Linked DNA regions of Homo sapiens: region 1 is linked to region 2. The links come from fine-mapping of genetic effects on gene expression. A gene starts in region 2. The other region holds a variant in brackets. All regions are shown on one strand. Distances are from middle to middle.

Region 1 (5,389 bases), 130 kb before region 2:
AGTGGAGGGGGCTTTGTAATCAGTCTGCTTTTAGTAAACATCTACACATACATATTCGTTTGACTAAATTTAAATGTACCACAGCCTATTCAAGATTTAAATGGTTGAGCTTTCAAAAAAATTTTACAACCAACAAAATTACTGGTATTTTGGTATTTTAAAATCTCACAGAACACGGAAATAACCAAAGCTGATATTACAATTGCTAACGTAAGTAAATAGTTGTTTTCAATGGCCAGCATATATTATAATGAAACCTAAAGTTTGTATGTCTGATATGAAAGCTATGTCATCTTGGAAAATTACACGTAAACCATGCTTAACTCTAGGTGTGCATCAAAATATTCCAACTCCCAGTGATTCTGTGGGTTGGGACAAGCCATCTGAATTTTTAAAAGCTTCGTAGGTGATTCTGATGCACACTACTAGTCAAGAGTAGCTATCTTAGAGGATATTAAATATTACTGCCCTCAACTCCCAATGTACTCTATGTAGTTACAGCAAAACTTTAAAACCTCATATGCAGCACTGCTTTGCCTACAAATCCATTATTAATTTCATCATCTCCTTGAGTTTGCTTTTATTTGATATAAACATCAGAGTAGCTGTTGAAAAAACACATTTAAACTTTCCTTCCCACACCATCAGGAAGTTGTTTAAAACTAAACATATTAAGTCAGAGTTTAAAAGGTAATACATTTAGAGGTGGGCTGGGAACCAAGTGTTAACTTTGGAAAGTAGAGCCACCATCAATCACCCACATGAAGTTAGGAGTAGGCAAGAGTGAAACAAGGGCAGGAGGGGGAAGCTAACTCTTCTGAAACATGTCCTTGTGGCATGGCTTCATTATTTTATTTACACCCATGAGAACTCACCATATATGCTCATGTTCAAATGGAAAGAAAAGTATTATCTCAAGATATAATCTATCGTTCAGATCTTCTATTTTCACATTATCTGTGTAACAGTTGCTCCTACTAATATAAAAAATTAAGAGCTAATTGTATTATTTAGATACCATGGGCTGGTAACTTTATTTATTTCCTTTTATTTCTCATATATATATATATATATAATGAAAGACTAAAGTTTGTCAACATACCTTGGGTCAAGAAGACTCCTCAAAAATTTGAAAAGCAAAACCTGGTTCTGAACAGAAAAACAATAAAAATTACAATTAAATATTAAAACAAATTTTTCAAATATTCCATGGTAAAGAACTACTTTAACCTATCCCTTTATGCACAGATATCTGAGTATTTCCACAAAGCCCTCTGTACAGATCTAAGAAATTCTAAAGAATCATCTGGAGGTTATGTCTTCTCAATAATTCTAATCACTGTCGCACATTCACTTCTCAGTGTAAACGGAACACAAACACCCTATTATCGCCCAAAACAGACCTCTACTGAGACAAATCCTCGAGCTGTTCCCAGCACAAGGACCCTCGGAGTGGCAGGTGCTTGGAACTGCTCTGTGGATGCTGAGCTCTGGATGCACTGATCAGTTTCACCTTGCCTTAACCTGGTCCTCCTGTGGCAATGGGTTGCTGTGAGATAGTTCATCCAGGGAGGGTGGGAGTTTGAGGTCCAAGTTAACAACCACCACCAAAAAAGTTCATGAATATCAACAACTACAGAAGAGATGCCAATCAAACTGCAACATGTTAGCAATCAACATGCCATAAAATCTGGGTTCTGTTTTTGCCATTTACTCACTTACGTGACTTTCTGTAAGTTACTTATCCTCTGAGCAATTCAATTTCCTTATGTGGAAAAAAAAAAAAAAAAAGAGGACAGCAATATCTTCTCTGCCTTCCACATTGGGTAGTAGTGAGGGTTAAATGAGATAAACCTTCAAATACTACAAAAATATGAATATTTCTAAATTCTTGGGAAACCTATGCAAAAATTGTTATTGTTTAGTTTTTCTTTGTTTTTTTATTTTTTGACAAATTCACACTTTATCTGTAAAAAATGGGGGACTCTTAAAGATGAAAAAGATTAATATAAAATATGATTTAAAAATATATTTATTTTTATCAGTCTGATTTTCTATTTTTTCACTATCACTTTGTGTTATTTTACATGACTTTCTTCTCAGTTATAACATAACATTCTGGCAATTTTTCATTTTAAGAATTCTGAAAACAATTGGTCAGAGGCATATTTCTTGCCATCAAAAGTAAAGGTACTTTGTAAGATCTATGTGGGATTCTTGCACAATTTATAAAGCTATGCAATAAAGTAAATACTTCATTTCTTTAAAAGAAATGTCTAAGACTCCACAAACAGACCTTTTTTTTTTTTTTTTTTTGAGACAGGGTCTCACTCTGTCACCCAGGCTGGAGTGCACTGACATGATCACAGCTCACTGCGGCCTCAACCTCCTGGGTTCAGGTGATCATCCCACCTCAGCCTCCCGTACAGCTGGGACAAAAGGCACCCACCACCATGTCCAGCTAATTTTCTGGATTTTTTTGTAGAGATGGGGTTTCACCATGTTGCCCAGGCTGGTCTTGAGCTCCTGAGCTCAAGCGATCTGCCCGCCTGGGCCTTGCAAAATGCTAGGATTATAGGTGTGAGCCACTGTGCCCCGCCCATACTTTACTTTTATATATTTGTCTGATGAATGACATTATATTCACCTACTGGGCCTGTCTCTTAATATCCGTAGAGACTACAAAAAAAAAAAAA[G/AG]AAAAAAAGAAAAGAAAAGAAAATCCTACAAGTGATCATTTTAAATCTTAAAGGACAATGACAACACAGCCACCACCACAGGCAAAATTTACCAGAAGTGCTGACTTTTAAAGGGGAGAGAAGCTCTGGAGGTTGAGAGTAGTTTTGGTAGAAACCTCCTCCTACCCTCCCTCACTAGACTGGATTTCATGTCCTTCCGTGTACTACTTCAGTATCCTGGGCTCCATTAGCATTCCAATCAAGCTAGTCTGTAATTGTCTTTTGGCTTATTTGTCTTCTTCCTAGAGAGCAGGATCACACTTACATGTTTTTGTATCCTCAGCACTTAATGTTTTTGGCCCAGAGCAGGTATTTATTGAATTAATCGGTGAGTCTTTTTCTTGAGTTAATGGACCTCATCATTATCATGCTGGACAACCAAGCCTGATATCTGGGAGTTGTTTTTAACTCCTCCCATCACATTCAACTGATTTCCAGATCCTATACATTTTACTTCACAAAAATGTCCTAAATCTGTCCTCTCCAACTGCCACTGACTTAGTGCTAGTCCTCTCCATCTTTTGCCTAGACCTTCTTCTCTCTCCTCCATTTGCTCTCCTTTCCAGTCCATTCTCCCCACTGCTATCCGAAGTTCATTTTCTGTAAAATGGATCTAATGATACTGCTCTTTAGCTTTAAAGAACTTCAATAATTCTCAGTACACAGAAGACAGTTTAAATTTCATAGCATCACATGTGAAACCGTTTCGTATTTGTCTCCAAGCTGTATTTTGCAACCCCTCTAGTTTAGCTCCTCCCCTCCAGCCTATCACTAGTAGCTTAACCTAATGCCACTTCCACCATCACCCCCTGCTGACGTCATGCTTCACACAGACCTGACTGTTCTCTGAACATGCATGCTGCTTTATGCCTTCAAGGCTTTTATACCCAGAACCTTTTTATTAAGAAAGCCCTGCCCAAGTCTCTGCTTGGAAATCTGACATTAGGCATTCAAGACCAGATTAGGGATCTCTGGGCATTCTTGTCTTTCTCGCAATCCATCACCCTCTTCTCTTGTTCCTACAGTACTTTTCACATATCTCTAGTGTAGCTCTTTCAACACTGGACTATAATTATGCAAGTGCTTCTCTGTTCTAGAGGAAAAATTTAAGAAAAGGTTGTATTCTTATTTCTGTCCCTAGGGCCTAGCACACTGGTAGAGAGTAGAGCAGCACTAAGTGTTCGAATGAATGAATTCCATATTTTTGTCTCTCATGCCAGCTACCTCCTACTCACTGCTCTGATTTCCTTCTTGCACAGCTATTCCCAACCACTATTAATGTCACTTGAGGACTCTGGGTGGTGCTTCATGTCCCTGTCATTGTCCTATTCCCTGCCTCTATCACTTGTGGCTACAATGACAGGGAGCAAACTCAACATCAGCACGGCCATGGTAAGTGGTAAGTGGAATACCTTAAACAGTCCATTCAATAGTACTTCTAACTGAGCTTCTCAATATTTACCATGCATATAGCTGTATTCCAGTTAAGATTTTCCAAGAAACATTCTAAACAGCACAATTTCAGGATGACAAAGTTTTGAATAAATATGAATCTCAAAGAAAACAGGGTTGTGGCCCAGATGTGGTGGCTCACGCCTGTAATCCCAGCACCTTGGGAGGCCGAGGCAGGCGGATCATGAGGTCAGGAGATCAAGACCAACCTGGTAACATGGTGAAACCCTGTCTCTACTAAAAACACAAAAAAATTAGCCAGGCATGGTGGCAGGCATCTGTAGTCCCAGCTACTCAGGAGGCTGAGGCAGGAGAATGGCTTGAACCCGGGAGGCGGAGCTCGCAATGAGTGGAGATCACACCACTGCACTCCAGCCTGGGTGACAGAGCGAGACTCCATCTCAAAAAAAAAAAAAGAAAACGGGGTTGTGGATCCTACAGCAAAAGAAAATGGGAGAAGGGAGGATCTGTGGATTAGGATTTCTAGGATAAGTACATTATAGTTCCAGAAATGCTTCTTTGAAGCTCATATTTGTATGCACAAAGATGAACTCCCTCATTTCCAAACTAAGAGATCATCATACAACTGCTCCCAACCACACACACACACACACACACACACACACACACACACACACACACAGTATTAGGTTGGTGCCATTAAAGAAATGGCAAAAACCACAATCACTTTTGCACCAACCTAATAGAAACTGCTAATAAATGTCAACTGAAGAAATCACTACAATCAAAACTTCTTAGGTGACGATTTAATAATTGTCTTTCCACTAGATATTTTTCCCCAATATATATTTGCAATATGTACCTGAAGTTTTTTAATGACCGTTTCAATATGTCCAGAAAAGTGGGTGGCAACCAGCTCCGCAGCTTTACAAGGCTTCAGGGACACGAGTTCCTGGAGTTAAAGGAAAAGACAAAGCCATCTCTAATGGCTCATTTAAACAGCATATCCACAGATGTGAGGCACGATTACCTACCTCAATACAGTCGCAAGCTTCCATGCTGCATTTCAGCAGACCTTGATATAGGGCCTCAATTTAAAGCGCACTTTGCAAATGAGCAAAATTAGAAATGTGCCATGTAAAAAAAAAAATCAAAATTTCATTTAAAGAAAGGTAATTCAGAATTCTTAGAAAATGAAAGCACTATAGAATTCTGGATTTCAGCCATGATACCTGCAGGAG
Region 2 (5,389 bases):
AGACATTCCACCGGGACCTTCCTGACTCTGTGTAGGCCTAGAGTAATGTGTGTGTTTGCGTCTTCGTTTTTAAAGATTAAAATTTTTTGAAATAGAAAAAAGCTAACAGAATAAGGATATAAAGAAAATATTTTTGTACAGCTAATTGTACAATGTGTTTGTATTTTAAGCTAAGTTTTATCACAAAGAAGTTAAAAACTTTTTTAAATTAAAAAGTTTATAACATAAAAGTTACATTACAGTAAGCTAAGGTTAATTTATTATTGGAGAAAGAAAAAATTTTTAATAAATTCAGTGTAGCCTAAGTGTACAGTGTTCAAAAAGTCTACAGTAGTGTACAATAATGTCCTAGGCCTTCACACTCACTCACTACTCACTGCCTCACCCACAGCAACTTCCAGTCCTGCAAACTCCATCCATGGTAAGTGCCCCACACAGGTTCACATTTTTCAATCTTTTAAACTGTATTTTTACTGTACCTTTTCTATGTTTAGATATACAAATACTTGGCCATTGTGTTACAACCACCTACAGTATTCAGTACAGTAACATGCTGTGCTGGTTTATAGCCTAGCAGCAACAGGCCATCCCACATAGTCTAGGTGTGTAGCAGACTACACCATCTAGGTTTGTGTAAGTACACTATGATGCATGCACAATGACAAAATTTGCCTAACCACACATTTCTCAGAACATATCCCCTAACTGTCCCATGACTGTAACAGGAAGAATGAGGCTTGCAATTACAGTTGCAGAGGAGATAGGGAACTGGGGGTTACTGGTCCTTTGCAGAAAGGGAGAGAGACACAAGTACTCCATCACTGGAGTCACTGGATTTAGTGATATAGTGATACCCCAGCCCCTTCCAGGTTTGGAGCCAATAAATCCCTTTTAGCTTAAGCCCATTTGAATTTTCTGTCACTTGCAACAGAAATATCTTTGACTAAAAAAGTATAATTGCTATTACAGTAAACCTAAGAAATTCATAACAGTGAAAAATCCAACGCAAAGCTATATTTCCTTGCTAAAACACAGAACACATTTAATAATGTCATACAGCGTGAAGATAAGTCAAATATTCATTCAAGATTCAGTTAAGAATACAACAGTTTGATCTTACCACTATGTACCGATGACACCTACAGCTGTGGATCAAGAGAACATACGATCTAAACTCTATGAAAGCTATCAATAGATCCAAAGTTAAACATACTTCATTAAATTCAAAAGATCTTACTTCTCATTCACATACATAACTGACATTTTGTGTCACACTGGTTGAAATGTCAATGGAATAGTGAGATACAGCTAAGAATCACCAACATGTCCCAATATTCTGGAAGACAGAAAACATCCATCTGCTGACAATGGTCCAGATACGAAGCAAATATATTAAATATAAAGAAAAAATCAACATATTACTCTGTTAGAGCTCTGGAAAGAATTTTCTCACAAATGCCTCTTTGACCATATAAAGCCCAGTAGTTCAACGAATTTTTTTTCCATTTATCTTTATTGCATATTCTATGGAACAGGCCAGCTATTGCCAGAGGATTCAATACCTATTCTGTGCTTAAATTTAACCATGAGCAAACCCACGTCTTACACAAACATATGCAGATTCTCCATCCACATTTATATTAGATATACCTCAAACCCACACAGGCAGACATAGACATACACAGACAATTAACATGTAATTGTCTCCCAAATGCAGACATTTGGAGTAAGGTTTAGCACCACAAGCTAACATCCATGCTTGTTTTGCTTGGGTTTTGGGGTTTTTCAGTAGGGGAAAGTAGAGTATGGTAGAGGGTGGATGGTGCAGAGGCCAGAAGCCTTCCTATTCATTCTAACAAGAATCTAAGAAGTGGAGGGGGCCTGCTTATTTAAAGAAGGCTCCCCAGCTAGCTATTCCTGATAACCCACGGCCATGGAACCTCTCACCGATCCTACCTCCTCCCACCCTATCCTCCTGTAAAGCACCCCCATTTTGTACACCCAGACACTCTGAGCAGCTGTTTCCCTCCTTCCCCAGATGCCAAGCACAAAGAACTGGCCAAGGCACAGGAGTAGCCTCGAACTTCAGAGGCCCACCTTTCACCCTGCTGCCCTCACTCTGGTGCACAACTTGCACGCGGAGACAAACTGGAACCAGCCTCACAGGGTGCGCACCGATCCTAAGAGGTGGACACCCCATCTAAGCCTCAGGCTCAGGCACCTTGATATCAGTCCCTGGAGGCTAAAGGGGTCCACACCTGTTTCCCAGGCCCGACAGACCGGCTACACACCTGTTCCGCCCGGGAGTGGGGAGGGGCATGACACCCGCCGCCTAGGCTCACAGTCGGGGGAGCGGGCGCGCCAGTCCCTCAGCCTAATTGCCGCACGACTGTAACAGGACAGAATGAGGCTTGCAATTATAGTCGCAAAGTAGATAGGGAACTGAGGGGTTACTGGCCCTTTGCAGAAAGGGAGAGATACACAAATACATCACCGGAGTCACTGGATTTAGTGATACCTCAGCCCCTTCCAGGTTTGGAGCCAATAAATCCCTTTTTACTTAAGCCCATTTGAATTTTCACATTCATTTGGAACCAGTAAGTGGAAATTGCCCGACCCAGTTCCGGGCCAACGTACGACACGCCCCTCCACTCGAGAATCAACCCCGCCCGGCCCGTGGCTCGGGTCCGGTTAGCCCGTCAGGGGCTGCTCTGTTCGCTCCCCGAGGTCCCGCCGCTGTCGCGCGGGGAGGAGACGCCGAGGCTCAGAGACCTGTCGCGCGCTCTCCTCCTACCCTGAATACGGCCCCTCAATCCTGTCTCCTTCCACGGGCCCGCTCTCTGGAAACTCGTTACCTGAGCTTGCTGCCATTCCGGCCGTGGACCGCCGGCCCACGTGACCGCACCCACTGCTCTAGCCTCACGCACGCGCACTACCTACCACTGCGGGCAGCGCTTCCGCTTTCCTCCTCGCACTGCTCCCCCTCCTGGGCGGTCCGCGCCTCTTCACCACGCCCCTATTTAAAGGGCCAGAGATACGCCGTCTTCCCCCCTACGGAAAAAATGGGTGATTCACATCTTGAGGACCAAGAGAATGGAAACGTCGAAAGAGTAGCGCAGACAAATAAATAACAGTCCTTGAGGTGAGAGGAGAAAGCTCCTCCTTTAAGAAAGTGAACTTACTTGCAGCCAGCCCAGAAGGGAAGTTGATTCCCTGCCTTTTGGAGTTTGCAACCAGTAAATTTTTTTTAACTTTTTTTTTTTTTTAAAAGATGAACTCAGAATTGCCTATTTATTGTGTCAAATAAGTACAATAGGCACACACATACTAAAATACCAACTATTATCTTGTAATATATCATCAGTGTTGCTCCCCAAAATACATCTTAACACCAAAAATACAGGAGAAACATAGTCTCAAATAAAGGAAACATCTGAAAAATGAACAAAAACGTATGCTTATTTCTCTTATCGCTCCTGAAGAAAGGTGAAAGCTTTCAGAACAGACTGGTTTCTAGAGTCATCACTGTACGTAACATTAGCCCCAGGACACAGATTTTAGGCCTGCTGGGGGCTATATAGGTCAAGAAAACAGGAGGAAGAACACCAGAAGATACTCTTGGAAGGAGATACAGAAAATATTCGGTTGGGCAGACATTTTTGAGCATCAGCTAGGTTCACTAGACTTCTGGGCCTTCAGAAGACCCGAAGGTGTTGCCCTGTCCTCCAGGTATTTATTTTCTAAGAATTCAGTGTACAGACATAACAAAATACAAGGCAGGCTGTTTTGAGTAATATAAAGAAAGACATTGAACCACCATTTTCGCACAGACAGGGGGAAAGGGTGAAACACTCAAGGAAGGATGTGGTATCTTGTCAGGGCCTTGAAGGATTTCAGTAGCAGAGAGCAGGGAGAATGCCTAGCTGAGGGAAGGGTGGGATCAAAGGCAGTACAAAGCAAGTTTGGGAACTAGTTATTGGCCTGATGTAGCCGTGGTGTGGCCAGTGGCTTTCAACCTTCTTTTAATCATCCCTCACAGTAAGAAATACATTTCAGGCCAGGTGCGGTGACTCATGCCTGCAATCCCAGCACTTTGGGAGGCTGAGGCAGGTGGTCAGGAGTTCAAGACCAGCCTGACCAACATGGAGAAACCCTGTCTCTACTAAAAATACAAAAATTAGCCAGGTGTGGTGGCATGCACCTGTGGTCCCAGCTACTCGGGAGGCTGAGGCAGGAGAATTGCTTGAACCCAGGAGGCAGAGGTTGCAGCAGTGAGCCAAGATTGTGCCATTGCACTCCAGCCTGGGTAACAGAGTGAGACTCCGTCTCAAAAAAAAAAAAAGATACATTTCAGCCATGGCCTAGTATAAAAACACACACAGTATGCGCATATGTGTGAGTGTGCATTATAGATAGATAGATAGATAGATAGATAGATAGATAGATATGCTGAAACAGTAATTGCCCTTAGAGTGTACAATGCAACTTGGTATTTTCTATTCTATTCTCTTTTTTTAAGTGCTGGTTACTGAATTCATTTCAGTACTCAGTGATGCAGAGCAACCCATAGTTTGAAGACACTGGTGTAGTGTGTATTAGAGATGTGGTGGGCTATGAGGCTGGAAAGGCTAGGACCAGATCCAGGAAGACATTGCACGCTAAGCTGGGGTGTTCTGCTCTTCTGGTGAGAGTCTCCAGAGGAACTCGAGCAGAGGAGTGGCAAGATGATAGCTGTGCTTTAGAAGGCTGGAAACCGGCCTTTGGTTCTGAATATCACATTTTTCTAGTAAAGCTATTAAACTAGAGACTGTCTACAGAAGGATAAGCAAGCTGGTGAGACCAGAAAGCCTGTGTGACAGAGAACTTTTGAAAGTATCCAGAGGAAAAGAAATTAGCAGAAGTAGGGGAGAGCAGGGTCATAGGGGTGAGCAGTGGAAAGGTAGCTATTAGGTTGGTACACAAGTAATTGCGGTTTTTGCCATTACTTTAAAAAACTGACCCTTTTGAAATATCTCTGCAACACTCATAGACTTATTCTGAATAGCTGTAGAAAGAAAGCAAGCCTACGACCTGTGTATGGACGTTGCAGAGAGGCAGATTTCAACTTATAATAAAGAATATTTTAGGATGGTCCAGACTGACTCTGAGACCTCTCCAAAGTAACAGCCCTTTTATGTACCTCTGTTCACAGCAGGAAGTAATCTCAAATGCTATCCTTTCCAGGGCTGTTTGCCTTAATAATAATAAAAAAAAATGTGTGCTTATTGTAGAAAACTTGGAAAATTCAGGAAATATTTTAAAATAAAGCAGAAATTACCCACATCCCAGAAAAAGGCACTTATAGTTTTGGCTTATCCGTTGGATCTTTTTCTTTGTATATTTACATTTG

Alleles and levels. Alleles are on the strand shown, and positions count from the first base shown. SD is a standard deviation of normalised expression in the study named.
For the expression in subcutaneous fat of the gene that starts at base 2,915 in region 2, allele AG in region 1 goes with a higher level than allele G (large effect, 0.92 SD a copy in TwinsUK).

Evidence for each region. PIP is the estimated chance that this variant, and not a neighbour inherited with it, causes the effect.
Region 1: its variant is the best candidate, but not a certain one, in a credible set for the expression of VPS8 in subcutaneous fat (TwinsUK, PIP 0.85).

Annotation. Positions count from the first base shown.
Region 1 is chr3:184,935,957-184,941,345 of GRCh38, reverse strand. It overlaps VPS8 (VPS8 subunit of CORVET complex), which reads right to left. Exons shown (of 48, transcript NM_001009921.3): 35 at 5,011-5,100; 36 at 1,103-1,149. Among named protein-coding and RNA genes, the nearest start is that of VPS8, 130 kb to the right of the region's middle. The variant G/AG (reference allele first, on the strand shown) is at 2,697.
Region 2 is chr3:184,809,692-184,815,080 of GRCh38, reverse strand. It overlaps VPS8 (VPS8 subunit of CORVET complex), which reads right to left and starts at 2,915. Exons shown (of 48, transcript NM_001009921.3): 1 at 2,856-2,915. RefSeq lists silencers at 605-654, 665-754 and enhancers at 2,788-2,987, 3,048-3,097.